2 linked regions of the Homo sapiens genome follow. Each later gene encodes a partner of the first gene's protein in a complex. Links are inferred from orthologs where the notes say so. Each region holds a gene or a part of one and is shown in the gene's direction. Other genes may lie near its edges.

What was found.
Region 2: the proteins of OOEP (region 1) and NLRP5 are in contact, whole or in part, in a cryo-EM structure (PDB 8H93), measured with the Mus musculus proteins. The link is inferred for Homo sapiens from one-to-one orthologs. Residues at the interface, in NP_080756.1 of Mus musculus: Ser26, Leu27, Arg28, Leu29, Arg30, Thr31, Arg32, Ile38, Val41, Asn43, Tyr48, Met49, Leu75, Leu86, Glu88, Pro95, Thr99, Lys102; in NP_035990.1 of Mus musculus: Glu173, Leu176, Leu195, His196, Gly202, Leu206, Asn322, Leu325, Glu326, Tyr337, Ile338, Leu339, Val340, Glu341, Gly342, Leu343, Ser344, Ala345, Ser346, His373, Asn625, Gln626, Asp652, Ser655, Glu661, Leu662, Cys663, Pro664.

Annotation. Positions count from the first base shown.
Region 1 is NC_000006.12:73,365,066-73,379,738, reverse strand, and holds OOEP (oocyte-expressed protein homolog), read left to right. Parts: upstream 1-9,841; 5' UTR 9,842-9,946; coding exon 9,947-10,136; intron 10,137-10,353; coding exon 10,354-10,533; intron 10,534-10,875; coding exon 10,876-10,955; 3' UTR 10,956-11,184; downstream 11,185-14,673. UniProt on the Homo sapiens protein: Component of the subcortical maternal complex (SCMC), a multiprotein complex that plays a key role in early embryonic development.
Region 2 is NC_000019.10:55,976,763-55,992,769, forward strand, and holds the start of NLRP5 (NACHT, LRR and PYD domains-containing protein 5), read left to right. Parts: upstream 1-10,012; 5' UTR 10,013-10,059; intron 10,060-11,051; coding exon of another isoform or gene 11,052-11,151; exon of another isoform or gene 11,152-11,867; intron 11,868-16,007. Other genes in the region: NLRP8 (NACHT, LRR and PYD domains-containing protein 8), read left to right, coding at 2,632-2,802, 4,297-4,396. UniProt on the Homo sapiens protein: Component of the subcortical maternal complex (SCMC), a multiprotein complex that plays a key role in early embryonic development.

The DNA of each region.
Region 1 (14,673 bases):
AAAAAGATATGAGAAACCAGCTGTTGTCTATTAGGCCAGACATTAAACAGATTTACAAACATGTAAAATAAGGCCACTTTTTTTTTTTTTTTTTTTTTTTGAGATAGAGTCTCACTCTGTTGCCCAGAGTGGAGTGCAGTGGCACAATCTTGACTCACTGCAACCTCCACCTCCTGGGTTCAAGCGATTCTCCTGCCTCAGCCTCCTAACTGGGATTACAGGTGCACACTACCATGCCCGGCTAATTTTGTATTTTTAGTAGAGACTAGGTTTCACCATGTTGGCCAGGTTGGTCTCAAACTTCTAACCTCAAGTGATCCACCCGCCTTGGCCTCCAAAGTGCTGGGATTACAGGCGTGAGCCACCATGCCTGGCCAGGCCACTGAATTTGTTTTGAGAAACAAATTATTTTTCAGGCCAGGCATGGTGGCTCACACCTATAATCCTAGCACTTTGGGAGGCTGAGGCAGGAGGATTGCTTGAGCCCAGGAGTTTGAGACCAGCCTGGACAACATGGTGAAACCCTGTCTCTACAAAAGCATAAAAATTAGCTGGACGTGGTGGCGCACGCCTGTAATCCCAGCTACTCAGGAGGCTGAGGCAGGATAATTGCTTGAACCCTGGAGGTAGAGGTTGCAGTGAGCCGAGATCATGCCACTGCACTCCAGCCTGGGTGACAGAGACCCTGTCTCAAAAAATAATAATCATAATCATAATCATTTTTCATTAAAAGGTTATCCATGTTAACGTGAGTTATAGTCATTGAATTAGGTTTCTCAAAGTTTGAATTTCTAATATAGTAAATATCAGTATCTATACCTTACAAAACAAAAGCTCTTTAGGGTAATCAATAATTTTTTTTTTTTTTCTGGAGACAGTATCTGGCTCTGTTGCCCAGGCTGGCTGGAGTGCAGTGGTGAAATCTCGGCCCACTTTAAACTCCACCTCCTGGGCTCAAGCAATTCTCCTACCTCAGCCTCCCAAGTAGCTGGGACCACAGGCATATGTCACCACGCTCGGCTAATTTTTGGATTTTTTAGTAGAGATGGGGTTTCATCATGTTGGCCAGGCTGGTCTCAAACTCCTGACCTCAAGGGATCCACTTGCCTTGGCCACCCAAAGTGCTGGGATTACAGGCCTGAGCCACTGCGCCCTGCTGGTACTCAACATATATATATAGATTTTCTTTCTGAGTTGGAGTTTCATTCTGTCACCTTGGCTGGAGTACAGTGGTGTGATCAGGCATGAGCCACCATGCCTGGCCTCAATGATTTTTAAGAGCAGGGGGACCCAAACATTTGAGAACTGCTGGCTCAGATGATCTTAGAGTTTGTAGCTCGGCCCAGTGGCTCAGGCCTATAATCCCAGCATTTTGGGAGGCTGAGGTGGGTGGATTGCTCGAGCTCAGGAGTTCAAGACCAGCCTGGCCAACATGAAGAAACCCCATCTTTACAACAAAATACAAAAACATTAGCTGGGCATGGTGCACACACCTGTCATCCCAGCTACTCTAGAGGCTGAGGTGGGAGGATCGCTTGAGCCCTGGAAGTGGAGGTTGTGGTGAGCCAAGATCATGCCACTGCACTCCAATCTGGGTGTCAGAGTGAGATACTATCTCAAAAAAAAGAAAAAAAAATAGAAGAAGAAGAAGAATTTGTAACAATAATATATGCAGGCTGGAGCATTTGGCATAAATTAAATAGGGTTACTTGGTGAAAACTCAGGTTTTTAACTTGAAAGCTGCCTGGTACAGCTATAGGTTGTAGGTGCGGTGGTGGCTCACACCCATAATCCTAGCACTTCAGGAAGGCCAAGGTAGAAGGCTCGCTTGCGGCCAAGAGTTCAAGACCAACCTTGGCAACATAGCAAGAACTTGTTTCTACAAAACATAATTTTAAAAAATATTAGCTAGGTGTGGTTGCACTCACCTGTAGTTCCAGCTCCTCAGGAGACTGAGGCAGGAGAATTGCTTGAGTCCAGACGGTCGAGGCTACAGTGAGCTGTGATTATGCCACTGCACTCCCGTCTAGGTGACAGAGTAAGACTCTGTCAATGAATGAATGAATCAATACAAGTAAATATAAATAAATACATAAAAATATTGCTGGCTTTTTACAGTATGTTGTTCAAAACCAGACCCAACAAACTCACTTACATGAGTTAATTTTGAGGCCACAAATACCTATCACATCTTGGGTGATATCAGAGAAACATTTGAGTAGAGAGGAAGTTGCATAGCACAGTTCACTCATAAAGTAGAAATGGTATATTCACGAGAACTTGAGAAAGTTCGAGGTGTGGTGACTTGCATGCATGAGCAGGTTGTTTATCTACTCCTGAGGCAGATAATAAAGCCGTCCCAGAAACTACTCACCCCTATTGCTTTGTGAGCAGAGCCCTATAGTTCTCTCTCAGCTGAAGCAAAACATGCTGCCTACATTTAAAAGGGGTCTTGAGGTTTTGGCTCCAGTTTGTGTCTCATCTTTACAGTTTTCACAGGATTATATTTTCAGCAAATAGAACAGCTCTAGAAACTTCCTTGGATGTGCCTTTAAAGTTTACACCAAGGCTGGCTTAAGATTGTAGTCAGTTTCTCTCTCCCATGGTAATAAGACCACATATGTCTAGCTAATTGTGTTAACTGGCAATGGCACAATGAAAGAAAATGGAAGTCTAATGGTAAAACACAATTATATAAGGATGTAGCCAAAGAACCATAGGGCATCTCACCAACAATAAATTTTTTTACAATTTTAGGGAAGAGAGGAAGAGAGAAATAAAATCATGGGCTGGGTGCAGTGGCTCACGCCTGTAATCTCAGCACTTTGGGAGGCCAAAGCGGGTGGATCACCTGAGGTCAGGAGTTCGAGACCAGCCTGGCCAAAATGGTGAAACCTCTTCTCTACTAAAAATACAAAAATTAGCCAGGCATGGTGGCAGGCACCAGTAATCCCAGCTACTTGGGAGGCTGAGGCAGGAGAATCGCTTGAACCTGGGAGGTGGAGGTTGCGGTGAGCCGAGATCGCACCAGTGCACTCCAGCCTGGGTGACAGAGTGAGACTCCATCTCAAACAAACAAACAAACAAAAACCACAAAAATCAGCCAGGCTTGGTGGTGGGCGCCTGTAATCCCAGCTACTCTGGAGGCTGAGGCAGGAGAATTGCTTGAACTCGGGAGGTGGAGGTTGCAGTAAGCTGAGATCTTGCCATTGCACTCCAGCCTGAGCAACAGACTCCGTCTCAAATAAATAAATAAATAAATAAAATCATGTTTCGTTGGGCTGTATGTATAAGGATCAGCATCAGATCTTGACAGTGAAGTGAACCCAGGGTCCTTAATTGAGATAGATGTGGAATGTTGTATTCAAAAAAAAAAAAAAAAAAAAAAAAAAAACAACCCCTTGTCCAAAACAGCTGCGACTGAGTTGTCAATTAAGGCTGTTTCTCTGTATCAAAGTGACTTAGAAAAACAAACGAAAAAAGAAAAACAAAATTAAAAAATAAATAAAGTGACTTAGATCCTCCAGGCAAGAATGGATGTTTCATTGTTACTGATAAATAAATTTAAATAGTACATTTTCTGATAGTCTGTAATTTTAGAGAATAATGTTTCTCACTGAGTAAGAACATAATAGTCATTCAAAAATGGGAGATCGGCTGGGTGCGGTGGCTCACACCTGTAATCACAACACTTTTGGAGGCTGAGGTGGGTGGATTACTTGAGGTCAAGAGTTCGAGACCGGCCTGGCCAACATGGTAAAACCCCGTCTTTACAAAAATTCACCTGGCCGTGGTGGCGGGTGCCTGTAATCCCAGCTACTCGGGAGGCTGAGGCAGGAGAATCACTTGAACCTGGGAGGCAGAGGTTGCAGTGAACAGAGATCGTGCCACTGCACTCCAGCCTATGCAACAGAGTGAGACTCCATCTCAAAAAAAAAAAAAAAAAAGGGAGATCATTATGACAATTTACAGCTGCAGCATGTCTTTGGGAGAAATTTAGTTTTGCAGCTGGTTTTATCTGTGTCTGTCTCAACCTGCTATAAATGATGGCAGATTTCTCTTTTCTCTCAGGATATAGTTATATAAAACTTAATTTTATATAAATATATACTGTATATAATATATAAGCTATATATATTATATATAAGCATATATATGTTTTATATATAAGGAAAAGAGAGTCCAGGCTGGAGTGCAATGGTGCCATCATAGCTCATTGCAGCCTCTGACTCCTTGACTAAAGGGATCCTCCTGCCTGCAGCTCCCAGAGTAGTTGGGACTACAAGGCATGAGACACCACACCGGGTTAATTTTTAATTTTTTTGTAGAAACAGGGCCTCCTTATGCTGCCCAGGCTGGTCTCCAACTCCTGGCCTCAGGCAGTCCTCCTATCTCCCACAGTGCTGGGATTACAGGCCTGAGCCATCCCTCTAGGCTCACTAATCTAATTTTTACTTTCTGTTCTCTCAGCTGGGAAAAGGTTAGTTCTCTTAGTAAAGAGGTGCCTTGGAGGGGATTCTAGAAATGGTTAGAAAGCTCAGCTTCACCTTAAATACAACCAAAGCTACTCAAGTATGTCAGCAAAGAAAGTCTGTTTTTTAAAAGAAGAGTTGGCTGGGTGTGGTGGCTCATGCCTGTAATCCCAGCACTTTGGGAGGCTGAAGTGGGTGGATCACCTGAGGTCAGGAGTTTGAGACCAGCCTGGCCAACATGGCGAAACCCCGTCTCTACTAAAAGTACAAAAATTAGCCGGGAATGGATGGCAGGAGCCTGTAATCCCAGCTGCTCAGGAGGCTGTGGCAGGAGAATAGCTTGAACCTGGGAGGTGGAGGTTGCAGTGGGCCAAGATCCCGCCACTGCACTCCAGCCTGGGCGACAAGAGCGAGACTCTGTCTCAAAAATAAATAAATAAATAAGTAAATAAATAGTTAAGTATGAGATCAGTCTCCCTTCCCCCATCAGTAAATCAAAACAACGATTAGGAGACATATTTTAATAGTTCCAGTAAAAACTCCAGGCTAGGCTGGGCACGGCTCATGTCGTAATCCCAGCACTTTGGGAGACCAAGGCAGGAGGGTTGCTGGAGCCTAGGAGTTCCAGACCAGCTTGGACAATATGGTGAAACCACATCTCAAAAAACAAAAACAAAAAACTCCAGACTATGATCACACAGGCAAATATACAGAGAAGGTAAGGTGAAAGGAGAAGTATGTGTTTGACTACAATTTCAGGGCTGGGGGCAGGCCTGGAATCTAAGCCTTCTTTACCATCTCTGCAACCATCATCATTTGTTGCTGGTAGGATTGGGATTGGCTTCAAGTTTTGGTCCTGTAGATCTGATTGGCTCTGTACCACAGAAGTGGAAAGCTGGGCAAACACATGGGAGTGGGTCCTGGAAAGGGCCTAGTCATACTGGGGCCTCTGGGGTTCCACATCACTGGATGAAGGCAGCCAGGCATTACGACTTTCATAGACTCCAGGTACTTTTAATGGAGCCCCTTTCCTCCATTAAAAAAATACATAAAATTGTACGTTATCTTTATTTTATTTTTTTAGAGATGGGGTCTCTGTCACCCAGGCTAGAGTGCAGTGGTGCAATCATAGCTCACTGCAGCCTCGACCTTGTGCACTCAGGCTATCCTTCCTCAGCTTCCCGAGTAGCTGGGACTACAGGCGCATGTCACCACAACCAGCTAATTATTTTATTTTTTGTAGAGACAGGTCCTCTCTATGTTGCCCAGGGTGGTCTCAAACTCCTAAGCTCAAGTGATCCTCCCGCCTCAGCCTCCCAGTGATGGGATTACAGGCATGTATATATATTTTAAAAATATATTTAAAAAATATATTTTTGGCAAAGCGCAGTGGCTCAAGGCTATAATCTCAGCACTTTGGGAGGCCGAGGTGGGTAGATCACCTGAGGTCAGGAGTTCGAGACCAGCCTGGACAACATGGTGAAACTCCACCTCTAGTAAAAATACAAAATTAGCTGGGTGTGGTGGTGCATGCCTGTAATCCCAGCTACTTGGGAGGCCTAGGCAGGAGAATCACTTGAACCCAGGAGGCGGAGGTTGCAGTGAGCCAAGATTCGCCATTGCACTCCAGCCTGAGCAAAAGAGCAAAACTCCGTCTCTAAATAAATAAATAAATAAAAAATAATTGCATACTTAAAATCTTCTGGCCCTGGCCAGTTGCAGTGGCTCATGCCTGTAGTCCAACATTTTGGGAGGCCAAGGCAGGAGGACTGCTTGAGCCCAGGAGTTCGAGACCAGCCTGGGCAACATAGGGAGACCTCTGTCTCTACAGTGGGTGTGATGGCATGCACCTGCCTCAGCTACCCAGTGAGCTGAGATCGTGCCACTGCACTCTAGCCTGGGTGACAGAGTGAGACCCTGTCTCAAAAAAGAAAACAAAAGAAGAGAAGGAGCCCTCTTCCTTTCTCCGCCATCGTGGTGTGTTCTTGACTCCGCTGCTCGCCATGTCTTCTCACAAGACTTTCAGGATTAAGCGATTCCTGGCCAAGAAACAAAAGCAAAATCGTCCCATTCCCCAGTGGATTCGGATGAAAACTGGAAATAAAATCAGGTACAACTCCAAAAGGAGACATTGGAGAAGAACCAAGCTGGGTCTATAAGGAATTGCACATGAGATGGCACACATATTTATGCTGTCTGAAGGTCACGATCATGTTACCATATCAAGCTGAAAATGTCACCACTATCTGGAGATTTCGACGTGTTTTCCTCTCTGAATCTGTTATGAACACGTTGGTTGGCTGGATTCAGTAATAAATATGTGAGGCCTTTCGTTTTTAAAAAAAAAAAAAAAAAAAAGGAAAGAAAAAGAGAAGGTGAGAAAGAATCTTCCGGCCCTTAAGAGCTCTGTGAAACGTCAGTTTGCTCTGGCCGCTTTCCCATTTTGATCTCGGGCTGGCGTCAGGCCCACTGCAGGATCCCTGGCACCCCAAGAAGCTAACCCAGATGGCGGGAAAAGTGTTCTATTAACCCAGCCAAGTTGGCTCAGTGCATCTCTCCACCTCAGTCTCTGGTGTTGGCTTCCATGCACTCGGGAAAACTGCCCACTTGTCCCCAGGCTTCCAAGGAGGCCCACGTGACTGACTGAGCTCCCAAAAGGTTTTCTTGCACAATAGCCCTCCTGTTTTGGCAGGCTCAGGTGCAAAGGCCTATCGGTCTCCCCAAAGCTGAGAGATGCGAAACCAACACTTGCGAATCAGATTCTGGCCTCTCACTGAGCAGGGAGGTTCTTTCCTCAGGGGAGAGCAGTAATCCCACAGGATCATTTCTTCCTTGAGGAAGAAATAACTGAACTAGCCACTGTTGGGCTACACCTGAGACTGAGTTGTATCTGAGACTAACTGCTTCACGGTGTCCAGCATGCTGGGGATTTATGTGGGGTTTATGGCAGAAGATCCCCACAAGATAATGGGGTGCCATCTTTTCCACACCAGGAAGTGGAATTTGAGAGAAGTTAACTTATTCCTGTGTGGCTCAGATCACCACAGTCCCCCTAAAGAAGCTGTTAAAATTCTATACATGCTGGGTAAAATATTCTTTGTCTACAGTAATGTAAGTGCGTCTCATGATTAGATTAAGGCTTTAATTTTTTTAGGTTTATTTTTAGGGTCTCGCTCTGTCACCCAAGCAGGAGTGCAGTGGTGTGATCATGGCTCACTGCACCCTCAAACCCCTTGGCTTAAGCGATCTGCTAGCCTCCACCTCCTAAAGGGCTGGGATTACAGGCACGAGCCACAATATCTGGCCTTGATTAGGTTAAGGGGTTTTTGTTTGTTTTTTGAGATGGAGTCTCACTCTGTAGCCCAGGCTGGAGTGTAGTGGTGCCATTTTGGCTCACTGCAACCTCTGCCTCTGGGGTTCAAGCAATTCTCCTGCCTCATCCTTTCGAGTAGCTGGGATTGCAGGTAACCACCACACACTGGCCAAATTTTTTTATTTTTATTTTTTTTTATTTTTGAGACAGAGTTTTGCTCTTGTTGTCCAGGCTGGAGTGCAATGGTGTGATCTTGGCTCACGACAACCTCCGCCTCCTGGGTTCAAGTGATTCTCCTGCCTCAGCCTCCTGAGTAGCTGGGATTATAGGCATGCACCACCATGTCCGGCTAATCTTTTGTATTTTTAGTACAGACTAGGTTTCTCCATGTTGGTCAGGCTGGTCTCGAACTCCCGACCTCAGGTGATCTGCCCGCCTCAGCCTCCCAAAGTGCTGGGATTACAGGCATGAGTGACCGTGTCTGGCCCACACCCATCTAATTTTTGTATTTTTAGTAGAGACCGGTTTTCTCCATGTTGGTCAGGCTGGTCTCAAACTCCTGACCTCAAGTGATCCTCCTGCCTTGGCCTCCCGAAGTGCTGGGATTATAGGCATGAGCCACCTTGCCTGGCCAGGTTAAGGTTTTAAATGTTTATTGCATCAGAGCCATAGCTAAATCTTGTTTTCCTGTAAGTATGCCCTGCACACCTGATAGTCAAGTTTTCTCAGAAACCATTGAGGGTGAGAGGGGGTGGGATCAGGGGCAGAAAACTGGAACCTCCACACAGTCCTAGATGATCATGTGGAGTCTGGAACATGCTTTTCACTATTTTGAGTTTTTTCTTCTATGCTGGCTGTGGTGGCTCACGCCTGTAATCCCAGCACTTTGGGAGGCCAAAGTGAGAGGACTGCTTGAGCCTAGGAGTTCAAAACCAGCCTGGCAACATAGTGGGACCCTGTCTCTACAAACAGACAAACAACAACAACAACAAAAAGAGCTGGAAAATAGCTGGGTGTGGTGGCAGGTGCCTGTGGTCTCAGCTACTCAGGAGGCTGAGATGGGAGGGTCGCTTAGGCCTGGGAGGTCGAGGCTTCAGTGAACCGAGATCGTGCCACTGCATTCCAGCCTAGGCAAGAGAGTGAGACCTATCTCAGAAAAATAGAAGTTTTAAAACAAACACATAGTTAATTGTAAGAACGAAATAGTATATTCAGCAGATACTATTCTGAAACAACCAAACAATATTTCTACAAATATAGTAGAAAATGTGTAAGGACATGCATGGGGATGATATATACACACTAGCTTCAGGATGATTTCCTCTGGAGAAGGAAAGGAAAGATGCTTGAGTAATATCTGTTTTAAAAACAGAGGAGTGAGGCAAATGTGGGGAAATGTCAACATCTGTTAAACTCGGGGAGGGTACATGGCCGTGTTATATTACTTTTTTGGATGTGTGAAACCTTTCATAATCCAAATTTTTAATTAAAATTACAAACATTGGGAAAAAATGTCCATCGATAATGGTTGTCTTAGGATACTGGAAATAAAGGAAAATTGTCTAACTTGCTACATGTTCTATAAGACCACCTCTGACGTGTTGTTTAAAACATGACACACTTGCTTGAATGATTTAAAAATGGTAACCATCCGGAGAGTCAGAAGATAACAACAGGGAGCAGAACAGAGAAAACTGACACATTGAACAAGCCTGCCCTGGGTCCGATATACCTATCTTTGGGAGGCAACGATGAAACCTTAACCTAGCCAGCAAAGGTGATTCCCAGTCTATTAATAGAGTCGTCAATTCAAACTCACACTGTTAATCAGCTATAAGGTGGGCAGAGGACTTTCAGGCTAAGCATACCTTACGAGCAGAGATGACGAAGGAGAGCATTGGAGACCCAACAGGAGGCCAAATGAATACTAGTTCAAGGTCAAAGAGGCAATCCCGGCGATTGAAGCAGCGCAGGAAGTGTCCAATGGTGCCGCTATGCCGGGGCGTCGCTTGCACCCGCTCACCCCGACGCGGTGCGAGGCGCCGCCGGAAGGGGCGGAGCGGGTCGAATATGGTAAAAGAGAGCCCGAGCTTCGCGCCTGGGTCTGGAAGAGGTCTTGCGAAAGCCGCCTCGAGCGCGCTCCGCGGCTGCTGGTCCCAGTATGGTCGATGATGCTGGTGCCGCTGAGTCCCAGCGGGGCAAACAGACTCCGGCCCACTCCCTGGAGCAGCTGCGTAGGTTACCACTTCCGCCGCCACAGATTCGCATCCGGCCCTGGTGGTTTCCGGTGCAGGAACTGAGAGACCCTTTGGTGTTCTACCTAGAGGCATGGCTGGCAGACGAGCTCTTTGGTGAGCGACCCCAGGTGTGCTAGTGGGCTGTCCACCTCCAGTCTGAGAGAGGCTTGGCAGAGCAGCTCTCTACAGTCTCTTTCCCAGATTCGCAAGCCAGGAGTGTTGCAGTGATGCCCACCTTCCAGTTCTTCCCTTCCCTGGCCAACATTCCCTTCAAATCCAGCTTCTAACCTGCCACCGTGCAGCCCCTCAGAGTTTTTCCTTACTTGTTTAGGCCCAGACCGAGCCATAATTCCAGAAATGGAGTGGACGAGCCAGGCCCTGCTGACAGTGGACATAGTGGACTCAGGGAACCTAGTCGAAATCACCGTTTTCGGGCGGCCCCGTGTACAGAATCGGGTGAAGAGCATGCTCCTGTGCCTGGCATGGTTTCACCGAGAACATCGTGCCCGAGGTGAGGGTCTTTGAGAACCTGCATGTGGAGGAAGCCACGAGTGACCATACTGGCCTTGCTCGGTTTCCTTCCATCCTCCCTTAACCTTCTCAAAATTTCTTGGTTTCCAGACCCCAGGGAGCTAGCTGTACGAAGTTTGTTGGGAGGGGATCCTGGGGTAGGACCTTGGGAAAGTCAGCAGAGATCTGATAGATTCAGACCCATCACTGCCCAAGTCAGCCTCACCTGGGTTACAGCACTATCGCAGATCTTTCTCTCCTCCCCAACTCCCAGTCACGGAGTAGTTCGAAACAGCAAACACTTGTCCCTGTCCATGGTTAGTATCAACTGCTTCTCTTCCAGCTGAGAAGATGAAACACCTTGAGAAGAACTTGAAGGCCCATGCATCAGACCCCCACTCTCCCCAGGATCCTGTTGCTTAAGACAACATAGTTACTGTTGGGAACATCTTAACTTTCTAACTTTTGCTGCTAAAGTTGAAGAAAAGCAAGTATAGCATTCTTAAATCCCCGTATTCCTTTTTCCTGTGTCTTGATGGATTGTGGTTTATTTTGTTGCAAGAGTGAGTTTGAACTATTCTAATAAAGAAATGGCTATTTTGCCAAAAGCATTAAGATCTTCACACACTTATAATAAAGCAAATTTATAAAAGATTGACTCCCACTCATGTTTTGATATGAAGGGTGGGCAGGTGATAGTTTTGTAGGTTTTTGTTTTTGTTTTTTTTTCCTGAATTCCCATCATTTTGAAACTCCTAATCCTTTTATGATTTTCTGGTCAGAGAGAGGCCCTCACCCACAGGGAGCGGATATGCAGGGGCAGATAACCTCACAAATGGTGATCTGTTTTGTTTTTACATAATTGGTCCTCAAACTTTAAAGCTTGTAAGAAATCACCTTGGGAGCTTGTTAAAACACAATTTCCTTGGCTCCTTCTCCAGAGAATTCTGATTCAGTACTTTTGGGGTGGGGCTTAAAATTTCATTTCTGATGAGCTCACACATACTACTAAAGCAGCTTATCTGAGGCTCTCACTTTGAAGCTGGTAATTGATCCCCCGAAGAGCACCAGCTGTGCGTTTTCCTGGAGTGGGGCATCCATTGGGCAGAGGATGACGTTGCAAGAAGCAAGCCTGGGCGGTCAGCGTTCATTAATGGTAGTTTTCGATTTACCACGGAAGAGCAGGGTTCCCAGGCACCTTGGCTCGTGGATGGCGCCCTGCCTTGGAGCCGGCTGTCTACCTTTTTCTACAAGGCGAGGCTGCACGGGTGTCCGGCATGGGCCAGGTTGTTTTTCCACTACGTGTTGTACTGAAATTACCAATCTCTGCAAAACAGCTCCTATCCTTGCCGCCCCACTTTCTGGAAGTAGAATTTTTGGGGCGAAAGGTGCCAAAAGCCCTGTGGGTTCAAGCACAGTTTGGATTGGTTTGACTCATGGAATTTATTCACTCCTTGGCAATAAAGTATTCTAGCCTTTTGCAAGCGTTTTAAACTCACAAGTCTCTTTAATTGTGCTTTTTTGATTAGAGGTGATGTTGAATATTTTCTTTGTTTCAGTTTTACATTTTTCTTTATTCATTCCTTTTTTTTTTTTTTTTTTTTTTTGAGATGGAGTCGCTCTGTCCCCCAGGCTGGGGTGCAGTGGCGCAATCTCGGCTCACTGTACGCTCCGCCTCCCAGGTTCACCCCATTCTCCTGCCTCAGCCTCCCGAGTAGCTGGGACTGCAGGCGCCCGCCACCATGCCCGGCTAATTTTTTTTTTGTATTTTAGTAGAGACGGGGTTTCATTGTGTTAGCCAGGATGGTCTCCATCTCCTGACCTCGTGATCCGTCCACCTCAGCCTCCCAAAGTGCTGGGATTACAGGCGTGAGCCACCGTGCCCAGCTTTCCTGGTGAGATTTTTATTGTTTATTTTTATTTATTTTTGAGATGGAGTCTCGCTCTGTTACCCAGGCTGGAGTGCAGTGGTGTGATCTCGGCTCACTACAACCTCCGCCTCCCGTATTCAAGCAATTCTTCTGCCTCAGCCTCCCAAGTATCTGGGATTACTGGCATGTGCCAACACACCTGGCTAATTTTCGTATTTTTAGTAGAGACGGGATTTCACTATGTTGCAAGGGTGGTCTCAAACTCCTGACCTCAGGTGATTCTCCTGCCTTGGCCTCCCAAAGTGGTGGGATTAGAGGCGTGAGCCACTGCACCTGGCCCTGGTGGGATTTTTATTTTTATTTATTTATTTTATTTTATTTTTTGAGACAGAGTCTCGCTTTGTCACCCAGGCTGGAGTGCAGTTGCACGATCTTGGCTTACTGCAACCTCCGTCTCCCAGGTTCAAACGATTCTCTTGCCTCAGCCTCCTGAGTAGCTGGGATTACAGGTGCGTGCCACCACGCCCAGCTAATTTTTTGTATTTTTAGTAGAGATGGGGTTTCACCATGTTAGCCAGGATGGTCTCGGTTTCCTGACCTCGTGATCCACCTGCCTCAGCCTCCCAAAGTGCTGGTATTACAGGCGTGAGCCACCGTGCCTGACCCCTGGTGGAATTTTTATAAAACCATTGAACATTTTGGGTTTTTGTTGAGACAGTCTCACTCTGTCACCCAGGCTGGAGTGCAATGGTGCAATCTCGGCTCACCGAAACCTCTGCCTCCCGGGTTCAAGCGATTCTCTTGCCTCAGCCTCCCGAGTAGCTGGGATTACAGGCACCTGCCACCATGCCTGGCTAATTTTTGTATTTTTAGTAGAGAATGGCCATTCTGGTCTCGAACTCGTGCCCTCAACTGATCCACCTGCCTTGGCCTTCCAAAGTGGTGGGATTACAGGCATAAGCCACTGCACCTGGCCCATTAAATATTTTGTTATTGGGGAAAAAGGGGTAAGCTTAAAACTTATTCTAATTTTTCCAAAAATACTGTATGATCCTAAACTCCTTCCATCCTTTGTACACATTAACATATATTGAAGTCCTAATCCCCAGTACCTCAGAATATGACTATATTTGGGCAATATTTGAAATCTTTGACTCTCAAGACTCTTGGCATAGGGCAACCTCTCCTGTTCCTCCATGCTGGGCAGCTGGCTTGGCTTGATGGCATCTATAATTCCAGCATGATATAGAGTTTCCATTTACTGGGTGTTTAGAGAAAGAAGCAGCCATATGAATAGGTGAAACTTAAAGTGTCAGTTCCGGGAAAGATGTTCATAGATATTTTGGATATGAGTTGAAAAGGTTGTGAGGGCCGGACATGGTGGCTCAGGCCTGTATTCCCAGCACTTTGGGAGGCTGAGACAGGTGTTGACCAGCCTGGCCAACATAGTGAAACCCAGTCTCTACTACAAATAAAAAAAATCAGCCAGGTGTGGTGGTGGGCGCCTGTAATTCCAGCTGCTCGGGAGGCTGAGGCAGGAGAATTGCTTAAACCCAGGAGGTGGAGGTTGCAGTGGAATGCCGTTGCATTCCAGCCTGGGTGACAGAGTGAGACTCCATCTCAAAAAAAAAAAAAAAAAAAAAAGAGTAGACTTGCCCTCTTAAATATTAAAACAGTCTATAAAGCTACTTAATTAAAATGGGGGTAGATATCAGAAAAAGTAGAAAAGTTACACATGAACATAAAATAGATTGGTAACACTGAGTTTGGGCAAGGACAGTGAAAACAGCTTGTAAAGGAGAGAACCTGACATTCTGGTAAGGTGGGTATTACACAGAGAAAGACAACATACACATTAAGTTTTAGCTCTGCTCTGATGTAGCCTCATTTGAAACTGATTTTGTGTTGATTTTGAATTTAAAGTGTTCTAAAGTTCTTCTAAAATTAGTCAACTATTTTAATAAAATGATTAGCGGTTAAAAGTTGCTAATAAGTTATTGTAAATTCAGCTTTATGTGGTAATTCCCTTATTGTAAGATACATGATTATTTTAAACTGGAGTGATAATTAGCGGTGACAAAAAGAGTCTGATAGACATTCACCTTATATTTAAAGTTAGCTTTGAACTTTTAAAAATTACTAGTGATTGGCCGGGCGTGGTGGCTCATGCCTGTAATCCCAGCACTTTCGGAGACCCAGGCGGGTGGATCACCTGAAGTCAGATCAGCCTGGCCAACATAGTGAAGCCCCTTCTCTACTAAAAACACAAA
Region 2 (16,007 bases), on another chromosome or scaffold:
TATATATGCATATATATGTATATAAAGATACATGTGGCCAGGCGCGGTGGCTCACGCCTATAATCCCAGCACTTTGGGAGGCTGAGGTGGGGCGGATCATGAGATCAGGAGATCGAGACTATCCTGGCTAACACGGTGAAACCATGTCTGTACTAAAAATACAAAAAATTAGCTGGGCGTGGTGGTGGGCGCCTCTAGTCCCAGCTAATCGGGAGGCTGAGGCAGGAGAATGGTGTGAACCTGGGAAGTGGAGCTTGCAGTGAGCCGAGATCACACCACTGTACTCCAGCCTGGGCCACAGAGTGAGACTCTGTCTCAAAAAAAAAAAAAGATACATATATACATATATATGTATATAAAGATACATAAGATACATATATACGTATATACGTATATAAAGATACATAAGATACATATATACATATATACGTATATAAAGATACATAAGATACATATATATATATATGTATATAAAGATACATAAGATATCTGCATATGTGTACACATATATGTACAGACACATATATACTTATTTTATAAATATTTATATGTAGATACTTATTTTATATATTATACATATAAGCAATATATTATTTATATATAAGTATATATAAATATATAAAATAAATACGAATATATTATATGTAAATATATGTAAATATACAATATATTATACATTATATACTTACATATTATGTTGTATATTATATATTTATATATACATAATTTATATTATATAAATATATGTATTATATATTTATATATAATATTAAAATATATATTAATTATATTAATATATTTATATATGAAAATATATAATGTATATATTTCCCTGTTTTTTGTGGTCTCTTTGCTAACATGTATACCAGCCAGTGATATAAAAGCATTCGTTCTGTTTTTAATTCTTTGGTTACCTTAAGTATTTGGAAAAGACTTGTAAACATCTCCTCTCATGATCAAAAAATGAATCTAATTTTACCTCTTTCAATCCAAATTTTTTGCTCTCCATTAGCATAGTCTTGGTATTTAATCTAGCTCATTTAAATTATTGTCTTGTAGAACATCTTTCATTTCCAGGATTAGTTTGGATAATGGTGTTCATTTTTGTTGATGATTTGCTTCTCAAATGAAATTCAGTATGAATTCACTGCCAGTCATGATTCTTTGATGCCTCAAATCTAGTTTGGGTTTTAAATGTTGATTTATCTCTTAGATTGAGTGAAATATATTTTCAGGTAGAAAAGAACTTTCTACACTTGAAAGTGTTTATGCAGTATTTTCTAAGCCTTTGCTTGTATGAGATTATTATTATTTTTTTCAGATCACAAAATTAATTTTATGTTTCCAGTATACCTGTGGGGCTAACAAGACAGTTATCTGCTTTGGGTCCTTTTCATCCACCTGTCCCCTTTGGGTTTGCTGTTTAATTTAATTTTTTTTAAATTTTTTTATTATACTTTAAGTTTTAGAGGGGGGAGGGATAGCATTTGGAGATATACGTAATGTTAAATGGCGAGTTACTGAGATTATTTTTTAATCTAGTTTTGGTCATGAGCAGTAACTTGGCTCAGTGTAAAATTCATGGACCCTATCTGTCTTAGTCTGTTTTCTGCTGCTTATAACAGAATACCTGAAATTGCATGACGTATAAAGAAAAGGACTGTGGAGGCTGAGAAGTCCAAGGTGGAGGGGCTGCATCTGGTGAGAGCCTTAGTGCTGGGGGGATTCTCTGCAGGGTCACTAGTGAGTCACTGAGCATGCTGTATACTGGCTCAGATCTCTTTCCCTCTTCTTATACAGCCACTCATCCCACTCCCATGATAACCCGTTAACCCATTAATCTAATAATCCATGAATTTTACTCTTTGTTCAAGGACTCTTATGGGCCGGCATCGTATTTATGATACACGGCACCTCTTTGAGACATGGTCACTTATTTGTAGATGTGCCTCCCCAACTTTTCAGTGAGTACTGTGTGGGAGGGCAAAGTGACTTACTTATAGAAGGATTTGAGCTGGGTGTGGTGGCATGTGCCTACAGTCCCAGCTGCTAGGGAGGCTACTAGGTAGTAGGATTGCTTGAGCCAAGGAATTTGAAGCTACAGTGAGTCAGGGTCACACCACTGCACTCCAGCCTGGGCAACAGAGTGAGACTCAGTCTCCAAAAAAAATTTTTTTTTAAAAAGATCCAAACACCTGGCCCATTAGGACAATAAAACCATGCTATTTGAATACATGTATTTTGTTACCTGTCTCCTCCCTCAATACCCTGCCCAGTCAACTGTGAGTTACAGGAAGGCAAGGATGGTGTGTGTTGCTCACTCTTGTGTCAAAAATGTCCACTAGGTAGAATCAAATATCTTTTGAATGAATGAAGATAAGTAGGTACAAGCCATTTTCGAAAGATATACTTGGCTCATAAATTCTTAGAGTGAGGAATACTATAGCCTGCTCTGAAATCACCAAAAGGACACAAAGAAACTGATTGACTATAGGTGAATAGACCATAGTTGGAACAACATTACACATTCCTGTCAGTGTGATTTCTTGGCTGTAAGCCGTCACACCGGCTGAGCTCTCAGATGAGTTGTGATGACTTCTCTGCTGTCTGCTGTCTGTTTCTGTGTCACAGGCTGGAAAACTGCCTGTTCACCTCCATCTGCTGCCAGGCCATGGCTTCCATGCTCCGCAAAAACCAACATCTGAGACATCTGGACTTGAGCAAGAATGCGATTGGAGTCTATGGTATTCTGACCTTGTGCGAGGCCTTCTCAAGCCAAAAGAAGAGAGAAGAGGTCATTTTGTAAGTCTCCACCGGGTTTCCTGTGCAAAACCTACCACACAAGAGAAGCTCCTTGTAAAACGTGAGATGCTGGGCTGGGTGTAGTGGTGCATGCCTGTAATCCCAGCACTTTGGGAGACTGAGACAGGCAGATCGCTTGAGTCTGGAGTTCAGACCAGCCTGGGCAACATTGCAAAACCCTGTCTTCTACTAAAAAATAGAAAAATTAACTAGGCATGGTGGTGCATGCCTGTAGTCCCAGCTACTCAGGAGGCTGAGGTGAGAGGATCACTTGGGCCCAGGAGGTTGAGGCTACAGTGAGCCATGATCACACCACTGCACTCCAGCCTGGGCAACAGAGTGAGACCCTGTCTCTTAAAATAGAAAGTGAGATTGTGGACCTGGAATGCTATTGTTTCAGGTGTTGCTACCATTCTGCTTTTGTTTCCTGGGGATTTATATTTCCCTTAATGTAGCTGTTCAAACCCCCAACTCCCACTTTTACCTAAAGGAACCATTAACTGGGATTCTCCTATCTGATATCTTCTTTCTTGTCTTTGTCTTCTCTTTTCTTCATTTCTTCACCTTTTCTTCCTGAACAGCTGAGTTTGTTATCACTTACCAGCTATATAGCCATGAACAAGTTAATCTTTCTAAGCCTCAATTTGCTAATCTATAAAATTGGGATGGTGTCTTCTCCCATGGAGATTTTATAATGACTGAAAGAAAAGTCGCACATACGGCACTTAACACAGTGCCTAACACATGTTCTCAACCAGTGGTGGGTTCTGGGTGAAAGATACAATTTTTCCTGGTGTATGAGTTGTCTATTGCTATGCAGTGAATTACCTCAACGCTTAGTAACTTAAAGCCACATAAAGGCGTATTGTCTTACACAATTTCTGAGGGTCAGAAATACGACAGCGATGTAACTGGGAGGTTCTAGCTCATGGTATCTCCCGAGGTCTCAGTTGAGCCACTGGCTGGGGTTTGATGAGGGCTGTTGAATCTGCTTCCAGGCTCACTTGTGTGGCTGTGGGCGGCGGGGGGGCCTCAGTTGTTCTCCAGGGAGTTGCTCATGACATTGCAGCTGGCTTCCTCCAGAACGAGAGGCTGAGAGAGGCAGAGGCAGAGGGAGATGGTGGCAGAGAGAGATGACTGACAGCTCAAAACAGAGCCACAGTCTTTTATTACTTAATCTTGAAAGTGGCGTCCCATCACGTCTGCCTTGTTTTATTGGCCATGGTCCAGCCCTGGTCCAGTGAGAGAGGGAGCCATCCAAGGGTGTGATTTGTAGGAGGAGGGATCATGGGGGCTGTCTTGGTTGAACCCCAAGGCACTTTGAATTCATTCCTGAGCTCCTAAGAGTGCTCCTATTTGTCTTGACCTACTGCATGGGGCCATGGTGGTCTCCTAGGTGGTAAATTTCTGTTCTAGAGGTTCTGTCTCTTTGTTTTGGGGCTGCAAAAGAAAACCAAATGTAAGAAAACAAAACCTTGTTTTTATCCTTCCCAGGGAGAAGAAAGACAGCAATGAAGTGGATATGCTGGCAAGACTGGAGGGCCCTGTAGTGGAAGGAGACTTCCTGAAGATAATACAGGACTGGAATTCTTAGTGCTGTGATGAAGCAATAGAGATGAATCGATCTGGACCCTCTGGTGACTGATCTGGTGGCCCTCTGGGTATTTTTTTTTTTTCCTAATGAGAAATTGGGAAACAGTTGCCTATTTTGTGGGCCGTCCTGACTCTGGAATGGCTCCATTCGTTCTGGGAACTGGTGTAGGGCATGACCTCCAAATAGCTCCATCAATGTTATGGAGTGTCATGTGTTAACACATAGATTAGTCACTGCATTGGGGGCACCAAGGTAAGGTGAGTTCCAACCCACATCTACTCCTGGCTACCAGAATGTCTTTGAATATGTCATGTAAACATCTCTTGGAGATATGTCTTCATATCTTCAAGGGTATTAGAAAAATTTAATTAAAAATATGCATGAATGCAATTTGAAATTTTTTAGAGTGTGATTTATTTACCAATAGACTGGTCCATCAACTGTTAAGGAAGAAACCTGTTCTTAACGTGTCTGGGGAAAGTGTGCACAAGGAACTTCTAAGGAAGATAATAAATGTAGCAAGTACTGGAAAAAGGAAATCACCTCATGTTTAAGGAGCTCTAAAAATGAAGTGTAACTCTTAACTTTTTAAGGTCCTAACTAACTACTACATTCTTAAATTAGTTATGGCAGCATTTAAAACTCAAAGATCTAGAAAGCAATCACAATGTTTTTTTTCCCCTTCTGAAACAGCCATCTTTTTACAATGTAATGATCAGGTATCATCCAGGTTGGTTTCTCTTGTTTTTTGTTTTTTTTTTTGAGATGGAGTCTCACTCTGTCACCACACTGGAGTGCAGTGGTGTAATCTCGGCTCACTGCAACCTCCACCTCCTAGCTTCAAGTGATTCTCCTGCCTCAGCCTCCTGAGTAACTGGGACTACAGGTGTGCACCACCACTCCCAGCTAATTTTTTTGTATTTTTAGCAGAGACAGGGTTTCACCACGTTGGCCAGGATGGTCTTGATCTCTTGACCTCGTGATTTGCCTGCCTTGGCCTCCCAAAGTGCTGGGATTACAAGTGTGAGCCACTATGCCCGGCCCAGGTTGATTTCTTAATTCTGAAGAAATTTTATTTCAAAAGCCAGAGCAGTTGGGGTCTTCAACCTCCACCCTAGCAATCCCACTGCTAGGTATATACCCCAAAGAAATCAGTAAATCAGAGAGATATCTGCACTTCCATGTTTATTGCAGCACTATTCACAATAGCCAAGATTTGGAAGCACCTAAGTGTCCATCAACAGATGAATGGATAAAGAAAATGTGGTACTTACGCACAATGGAGTACTATTCAGCCATGAAAAAGAAACTTAAGTGTAGAAACAATGGTATCATAGAAACAGCACACTGGTGCTCAGGTATTGTTTTCTAAGTACCGTTCCTCATTAAAGGAACCAAGAATCTTCAGAGAAAGAGCTGACTCCACAGTTGGTGCTGGGAATGTACAGAATGGGCTTGGAACATCTTGTGCCAGAAGTAAGACAATGCTCAGAGAACAATGGGGGCCAGGCCAGTGGCTTGCACCTGTAATCTCAGCACTGTGGGAGGTTAAGGTGGAGAGTTGCTTGAGCCCAAGAGTTAGTGACCAGCCTGGGCAACATAGGGAGTCCCCATCTACATTAAAAAATGTTTTACAAATCACCTGGGCATGATGGCGCATGCCTGTGGTCCCAGCTATTTGGGGGGCTGAAGTGGGAAGATCACTTGAGCCCAGAATCTCAAGGCTGCAGTGAGCCATGATGCATCACTGCACTCCAGCCTGGGCAACAGAGTGAGACCCTGTCTCTGAAAAATAATAATAATAATGGGGACATAGCAATAGGAACAAGGAGCCTGATTGAATGAGTTCCCACCGGCCAAATCTGGAATAATTTAATGATCAAACCAAATAATGGTAGAAATGTGGATGACAGTCGTGAGACCTTGGTTCTTGTCTTCATTTAAAAGAATTTAAACAACAGATACACAGCAAAGGAGATGCAGCATAGGGCAATTGCAAAAGAAAAAGAATATTTTGAAAGTAGGCCAGGTGCGGTGGCTCACTCCTGTAATCCCAGCATTTTGGGAAGCTGAGGCAGGTGGATCATCTGAGGTCAGGAGTTCGAGACCAGCATGGCCAACGTGGTAAAACCCCATCTCTACTAAAAATACAAAAATTAGCCGGGCGTGGTGGTGCATGCCTGTAGTCACAGGTACTTGGGAGGCTGAGGCAGGAGAATCACTTGAACCCAGGAGGTGGAGGTTGCAGTGAGCCAAGATTTTGCCACTGCACTACAGCCTGGGTGACAGAATGAGACTCCATCTCAAAAAAAAAAAAAAAAAAAAAGCAAATAAATGAAAGACGAAATGTGGTGGTAGAGAAACCATCAGAAGGTGCTGAAACCAGTAGATGGAGACTCGATGTACTCACATGAGTCTTTAAGGTTCTCCCCAGAAACTACATGTGAATTACAAAGTAAGAGTAGTGGGAAAACAGGGTAGATTGTGCCTTAGCCAAGTACTCAAAGTTAACATCACCAATAAGAAGACAAATGGATATCATGTGCCTGTGGATGGAACGTGCTGAGATAAACACAGCAGGGCCTCAGTGACATGACAGAACAAGAACACAAAGTTGGCAGGAACTATTTCAGATTCAGGAAGACCAACCTAGTAGATGCAAAAAAAAAAAAAAAAAAAAAAAAAGATAAAATTCAACATCAATTTGCAATTTTTAAAAAACACTTGGCAAACTTGGAACCGATGGTGACTTATTTAATTTGAGGAAGGGCTTCTAAAAAATTACTGCTAACATGCTTATTGTTAATTTAATCTAATATTTCACTATTTGTGAAAATTCTTTCCCTAAGATAAAAATGAGAGCAAAAAACCCAACCACTATTACAACTTTTATTTAACTTTGCACTGGAGGTCCTAGTCAGTGTAACAGGGCAACAAGAGGAATAATAAACACAACATTATAAAGATGGAAATAAAACTGTCATTTTTCACAAACAATGTGATTACATACATAGAACAAGAACTGATAATCCTGGTAAACCCTGGGGATTAAAAAATAATAATTAAAAAGTGAATTAGTAAGATCCCACACACAACAACTCGATATATGAAAATAAAATGTATTACTATGTACTATTAAGCAGTTTTTAAAAGCATAAAATTTCTTTTATACTGGTGTCAATAATCTCAAATAGGAATAAACAATAACAGTTGTGGCCGGGCGCAGTGGCTCACGCCTGTAATCACAGCACTTTGGGAGGCCGAAGCGGGGGGATCACCTGAGGTCAGGAATTTGAGACCGGCCTGGCCAACATGGAGAAACCCCGTCTCTACTAAAAATACAAAATTAGCCAGGCGTGGTGGTGCATGCCTGTGGTCCCAGCTACTTTTGAGGCTGAGGCAGGAGAATCCCTTAAACCTAGGAGGTGGAGGTTGTGTTGAGCCGAGATCGCGCCATTGCACTCCAGCCTGGGCAACAAAAGCAAAACACTGTCTCCAAAAAAAAAAAAAAAAAAACAACAGTTGTGCCATGGCCAGGCCCAGTGGCTCACGCCTGTAATCCCACCCCTTTGGGAGGCCAAGTGGGGAGGATCACTTCAGCCCAGGAGTTCGAGGCTGCAGTAAGCCGTGCTTGCACCACTGCACTCCAGCCTGGGCAACAGAGTGAGACCCTATCTCAAAAGAAAAAATTAAAGAATACCTAATAAATGGAGAAATATACAAACTTCATGAATGGGAACACTGTCTTTCAAAGATGACAATTTTCCTTGGCTGTATGCATAAAGTTATTGCAATTACCATAAAATTCCCAAAGTACTCTAGTGGAAATTTACAAGCAAATTCTAAAGTATATGAAGAAATGTGGCCAAGCGCGGTGGCTCACGCCTGTCATCCCAACACTTTGGGAGGCCCAGGTGGGCGGATCACAAGGTCAGGAGTTCGAGACCAGCCTGACCAATATGGTGAAACCCCGTCTCTACTAAAGATACAAAAAATTAGCCAGGCGTGGTGGCGGGCGCCTGTAATCCCAGCTACTAGGGAGGTTGAGGCAGGAGAATCGCTTGAACTGGGGAGGCGGAGGTTGCAGTGAGCTGAGATCATGCCATTGCACTCCAGCCCAGGTGACAGTGTGAGACTCTGTCTCAAAAAAATAAAAATGAAAAAGAAAAAAAAGAAATGCAAAGAGTTCAGGATAACTAGCACAGTATGGTATTTTCCATACATGTAATTAGAGATTGGAGAAATATACTAGGGAAACAGAATAGAGTCCAGAACAGAAGGGCATAAACATGATCACGTGACTTCTGACAAGCTGACATTACAAAAGACTAGGGAAAGGGTAGTATTGTAACAAATGGTGCTAAATTGATTGTTCCTACATAGAAGAAAAAATCTGAATTCCTACCTCATACCATATACAAAATTAATTCCAAGTATAGTATAAATCTAAATATGAAAGGAAAGACACTACACTTTCTAAAAACTAATCAGAAGACCTTCATGACCTAAGGAGAGACCATAAATTTTAAAATGCATTCACCATAAATTCTTCAAATGGAATTTTCAAACACATTTGGCCAGGCACACTGGCTCATGCCTGTAATCCCAGCACTTTGGGAGGCCGAGGCGGGTGGATCACCTGAGGTCAGGAGTTCGAGATCAGTTTGGCCAACATAGTGAAACCCCATCTCTATTAAAAATCTGAAAATTAGCCGGGCATGGTGGTACACACCTGTAGTCCCAGCTTCTCAGGAGGCTGAGGCAGGAGAATTCTTTGAACCCAGGAGGTGGAGTTTGCACTGAGTACTCCAGCCTGGGTCACAGAGCAAGACTCCACATCAAAAAAAACTAAAAATAAATACATGGGACTTTATCAAAAGTATAAACTTCTGTTTCAAGATTACTAAGAGAGTACATTTCAAGTGTTCTCACCACAAAAAAATAAGTATTCAAGGCAATGGATGTGTTTGTTAGCTTGATTTAATCATTTGACATTGTATACATAGAAGATCACACCGGACCCCAGGAAAATATACAATTATAATTTGTCAATACACAAAAAATTAAAAAATGCCAAGTGCAACTTCCAGATTATGTAAAATAAGGGCACCCAACACACACTCACACTCACACACACACTCTATCATACACAGTCTCTCACACACACACACTCTCTGTCTCACACACATTGTCTCACACCCACTCACACAGTCTCACACACATTCTCTCACACACATACACACTGTCTCTGTCTCACACATTCTCTCTCTCACACACACATGCACTCTCTCTCTCACACACACACTCTCTCACATACACACACACACACACACACACACACACACACACACTAATTGCTTCAGGACAGCCAGCTGAAGGCTGTGAGCATCCGGGCGCCCTCAGCACAGGTGTGTGGTGGTAAAGGCAGCCTCTTGCCAGCAGCAGCACCTGTAAGTGGTGCACACAGGTGCAGAAAAGTGCCTGTTCCCTGGGGCTGGTGGTTCAGAGCCGGTTGCAGCCAATGAGCAGCAGCAACATCACTGGCTCAGCGCTCCCCAGGAACTATCGCCACGTGGGCGTGGAGCTGGGCGTGGCCTTCTTTTTTCCGTGATTGCCAGCTGGCCCAGAGCTGGACCTGCTCTTGGTGGTGAGGTGTGAAGCTGGTGAGTATTCCTCCTGTCTTGCTCTCTGCCCTTCCCGCTTTTGTTCTCCACTGCTGATTAGAACCCGCGTATTGAGCTTACTAGGTGCCCCCACCCTCTCCCTTCTGGCTGCTCAAAGCCCAGGACCAAAGGATTCCTTGAAAGAACAAAGTCCAGTTACCCCATTTTGCTGAAAAGATCTTCCTCTAAAACCTCATATTTACTTGGGGTATTTAGGTAAGTCTCTCGTCCTTTTCAGACATTCGGTCTAAAATACTGTACAGAGGGCTGGGTGCAGTGGCTCACGCCTATAATCCCAGCACTTTGGGAGGCCGAGGCAGGTGGATCATCTGAGGTCAGGAGTTCAAGACCAGCCTGGCCAACATGGTGAAATCCTCATCTCTAATAAAAGTACAAAAATGAGCTGGGCGTGGTGGCATGTGCCTATAATCCCACCTTCTAGGGAGGCTGAGACGGGAGAATCGCTTTAACCCAGGAGGCAGAGGTTGCAGTGAGCCAAGGTCACGCCACTGCACTCCAGCGTGGGTGACAGAGTGAGACTTCGTCTCAAGTAAAAATTAAGTACAGAGTAGGGGGTACTGCAACTTGAATGTCAGGATTAGCTAATGTCTGGTCTGCATTTGGTAGGAGTCCAGAGGGTGTTTTGGTGCTAATTGTGCAAATACTATGGTTAACCGTAACTTAGTTATTGAAATGCCATACAATTCTGACGGTGTTGTTTGTCCTGTTTACCAAGGGAGGAAGCTGAGCCCCAGATAAGTTAAATGGCTTGCCTGGGGTAGAAAGCAGCAAATCATTCAAAGCTGGGTCTGAGACTTCAAGCCCTATAATCTTAACTGCTGCTTTCTAATCATTCAGGACACCTGGGTAGAAAGGTGAGGTGGGAGGGGTACGGTCTGTAGAAAAAGCATAGAGACAAAATGCAAGCTTAGGGAAGTCACTCATCCTCAGAAAATAACCTCAACCAGCAGCCTTCCTTTACCTCCCTCCAGCTGTATTCCTGCCTGGACTCGAATAACTAGCTTCTCCCCAACTCCTCACCCACCCGACTTCACGGGAAAAAGTGACTGCCTATCCCAGATTAATCCTTAGGCCGTCCAGTCATCTTTCTCTGGGGCTTGATTGATCAGTTCCCACTCTGACAACTGGCAAATACCAGGCGTTATCATCCTGTATGCATTAACGTACTTTCCCCTGAAACAGAGCAACCCAGTCAACACCACAGAACCTCAGCTTTGAACCCTGGAGTGAGGACGGTGATGCCCTGTGTGTATTAATATGCTATGTAAGGCTGGGCGTGGTGGCTCACGCCTGTAACCCAGCACTATGGGAGGTCGAGGTGGGCAGATTACCTGAGGTCAGGAGTTCCAGACCAGCCTGGCCAACATGGTGAAACCCCGCCTCTACTAAAAAAAAAAATACAAAAAATTAGGCGTGGTGGTGGGCTCCTGTAATCCCAGCTGCTCGGGAGGCTGAGGCAGGAGAATCACTTGAATCTAGGAGGCAGAGTTTGCAGTGAGCTGAGATCACGCCATTGCACTCCAGCCTGGGCGACAGAGCAAGACTCTGTCTCAAGAAGAAAAAAAAAATACATATACACATAAATATATATATGTGTGTGTGTATATATATATATATATATATATATGCTATATAAAGTTTAAATGAAATGCTTTGAGTCACCTAAGACAGGATATAGACAAAGTCTTCATCGTCTTCTTGCTTCTTCTACCTTTATTTATTCTCAGCTCTGAATGTATGAACCTGCTCAATCACCTCATCTTAAAAATAAAATCACTGTCCCTAGACCATACTCGTTTCCTTACCCACCCCTGAGGCTTTTGTTGGTTTTTACAGCCCTGGTTCACGTCTTGGTCCTCCAGCCCCTTTAAAGGATTGTGTAGAGCGGTAAGGGAAATGTTTAATTCAAATTACGTGTATATAGAAGTGTTTAGATATGACAGTCCGAAATTCGTTCTTTCTCAAATAACCTTCCTTCTTAATTTCATTGCCTAAGTTGAGAGTCTTTGTCTTCTGTGTTTTGCTTTCAATTTCCATGTATCCAGGTGGTTTATGTTAACTCAGAAGGGGGAGAAAAACCTAGAAAATCTTAATTGTTCTGTGGTCAGGATGTAAGCTTTTAAACATGTGCTCAGAAATAAGTATTTTTCCATTTACCAATAGTCAATATTGTCCCTAAATATTTATAGGAATGTGTAGAAAAGCTTATTTTCTTGCTATGGTTCTATTTTGAGCAATACAGCACATAAACTTCAATGTTCTATCATCAGTGTTCACGTGTACCTAGTTTTTTGGTCTTCCATGGATGGGTAATTGTAAGAATACCTCAATTGTTTTGATGAAATTCATTTATGTCTACTTATCTTCTACTAAAATGATTTTTTAATGGGAGGTACTTTTTAGTATTTGGTGATTTTTGGTGTGTATGTGTTAGACAAAGTCTCCCTCTTTTGCCCAGGCTGTAGTGCAATGGCTGGATCTCTACTCACTGCACCCTCCGCCTCCCAGGTTCAAGCAATTCTGCCTCAGCCTCCCGAGTAGCTGGGATTACAGGTGCCCGCCACCACGCCCGGCTAATTTTCATATTTTTAGTAGAGACGGGGTTTCCCCATGTTGGCCGGGCTGGTCTCGAACTCCTGACCTCAGATGATCCACCCACCTCAGCCTCCCAAAGTTCTGGGATGACAGGCGTGAGCCACTGCGCCCGGCCTTTTTCAGTATTAATTTGAAAGAGCAGCAATATGAGAAGGTGTGGCGGGAAGTGTGTCCTTCCCTGCCCCCGTAGTGTCTCTTCCCTATTTTCTGCTCATCACCCAAAGACATTCTGCGCACGTGTATGGCATTAAGAGCCTTACAGATGGGGCAACTTTCTGTGCTGATTGTTGTGCATTTTTAAGGATGCAGGGCACGTTGGTGCTCAAATTAACCCACCTGTTTTTAATCGACTCCTAAATGGTCTTCAGTCTTGCTGTTTTACACACGGCTGGGTCTAATTGCATTTAAAACGGATAAAGATTGTTAAAGTACCGTCCAAAAAGATGGCACCCATTTACACTTCACTAATGTAGGAGCACCTTTTCCTTCACCCATCACAAAGCAGCGTCCAGTCACACATTGTGGACATTGTCAGCCTCACATGTCAAACGTAGTACATCATTTTGGCTATTTACCTTATCAGTAATAACTTTTTTTTAAAGTACATTTAAAAGTCATGCCGTTTCTTTTTTTTCTTTTTTCTTTTTTTTTTTTTTTTTTTTTTTTTTTTGAGACAGTGTCTTACTCTATGCCCAGGCTGGAGTGCAATGGTGAGATCTCAGCTCACTGCAACCTCTGCCTCCCGGGTTCAAGCGATTCTCCTGCCTCAGCCTCCCGAGTAGCTGGGACTACAGGCACACGCCACGATGCCCGGCTAATTTGTGTATTTTTAGTAGAGATGCGGTTTCACCATGTTGACCAGGCTAGTCTCGAACTCCTGACCTCAGGTGATCCACCTGCCTCAGGATCCCAAAGTGCTGGGATTACAAAAGTCATATGCAGTTTTTTAACTCTTCAAAATCCTTCTAATAGGCTGGGCACAGTGGCTCATGCCTATAATCCCAGCACTTGGGGAGGCCGAGGCAGGTGGATCATTTGAGGTCAGGGGTTTGAGACCAGCCTGACTAACATGGCGAAATACCCTGTCTACTAAAAATACAAAAATTAGGCCGGGCACGGTGGCTCATGCCTGTAATCCCAGCACTTTGGGAGGCCCAGGCGGGTGGATCATGAGGTCAGGAGATCGAGACCATCCTGGCTAACACGGTGAAACCCCGTCTCTACTAAAAATACAAAAATTAGCCGGGCATGGTGGTGGGCGCCTGTAGTCCCAGCTACTCGGGAGGCTGAGGCAGGAGAATGGCAGGAACCCGGGAGGCGGAGCTGGCAGTGAGCCGAGATGGTGCCACTGCATTCCAGCCTGGGCGACGGAGCAAGACTCTGTCTCAAAAAGAAAAAAAGCTGGGCATGGTTGAGGGTGTCTGTAATCCCAGCTACTGGGGAGGTTGAGGCAGGAGAATCACTTGAACCCAGGAGACGGAGATTGCAGTGAACTGAGATCATATCACTGTACTCTAGCCTGGGCAACAAAAGCAAAACTCCATCTCAAAGAAAAAAAAAATTCCGCTGAGCTGTTGATCATTATCATGGATTGGAAGAGCTGTTTACGTAATGCATTCTTTGTCATGTCTCAAATTTATTTGCAGCAGTTTTTTCAGCGGGACTTTAAAGATTTGTTTGTTTTTCTGGAGTGAGGAGGGTACTGTATTGAATTAATCTGTCATCTTGTCTCTTTTATACCATTCGATTGAGACCTTCTATTCCATTTGCTCATTATTTGGGGGCTAAATGTAAAGTAGGAATTCATGAACATAAATATTTCAAAATTTAGCCCCCGGAAATGGTGACCTTCTATCGTAGATGTTAAAGTGCAGCCTAGACATCAACAGAGTGAATATCATTCTTCTTAGAATTTTCTTGTCTAGTTTTGGCTTTTCATAGAAACATTGAGTTTCTTGTCCTGATAACAATATCAGCAGTACTTCTTGGATGATATTATACTGATGGAGGATGACTGATGTGTTGGGAATCTGCCTCTGCCTCACCACATTGAGCCTTTTATCTAGCAGCCGCATTTTAAAGCTCTCAAAACAGATAGCCACTTTTCTAAATTATGCATGTTTTACCTCTATAGTTGCTGTTCATTTGATCTCACGTTTAACTGGTTATTAGATTTTGTGTGGGATTTCATCGTTACATTTGTTACCAGCCCAATTTAATAACTACATATAATTTAAAATTGAGTAATTTATTAGGCATACATACCTACATACAGATGTTAATTTTCACCTTTTTCCACTTTTATACCTCCTCTTTATCTGATTGCTTTCCTATCAAATATAAATTAGGTAAATATAAATAATAGTGGAATATCAGATATAAAGAATAGGGAGAGAGTACAAAACTGAACGGAAGTGCTGACAGCTAACATTCTTTTTTTACTTTTTAGTTTTGGGGGTACATGTGAAGGTTTGTTACGTAGGTAAACTTGTGTCATGGGGGTTTGTTATACATACTATTTCCTCACCCAGGTTATTAAGCCCAGTACCCAGTCGTTATTTCTTTCTGCTTCTCACCCTCCTCCCACCCTCCACCCTCAGGTAGACCCCAGTATCTGTGGTTCCCCTCTTTGTGTCCATGTGTTCTTATTTAGCTCCCATTTATAAGTGAGAACATGTGGTAGTTGGTTTTCTGTTCCTGTCTTAGTTTGCTTAGGATGATGGCCCCCAGTTCCATCCATGTTCCCACAAAAGACATGATCTCATTCTTTTTTATGGCTGCATAGTATTCCATGGTGTACGTGTACCACATTTTCTTTATCCAGTCTGTCCTTGATGGGCATTTAGGTTGACTCCATGTCTTTTCTATTGTAAACAGTGCCACGGTGAACATTTGCATGCATGTATCTTTATGGGAGAATGCTTTATATTCCTCTTAGTGTATATACCCAGTGATGGGATGGCTGGGTCCAACGCTACTGCTTTTAGCTCTTTGAGGAATCTCCACCCTGCTTTCCACAATAGCTGAACTGATTTACACTCCCACCAACAGTGTATAAGCTTTCCATTTTTTCCTGCAACCTCAGCAGCGTCGGTTTTTTGACTTTTTAATAATGACACGTAACATTCTTATGGGATTCTCTGTAGGGCTTGTGTCAAATCCAGCCCATTGCCCAGTTTTGTAAATAAAGATTTATTGGAACACAGCTTTTCTCCTTTGTTGACAAATTGTCTACAGCTACTTTCCCAGTGCAGGAGCAGCTAAGCACGGGTGGCAGAGAGCAAATGGCCCCAAAGCCAAAAATGCCTGGCTCCTTCTGGGAGATTTGCTGA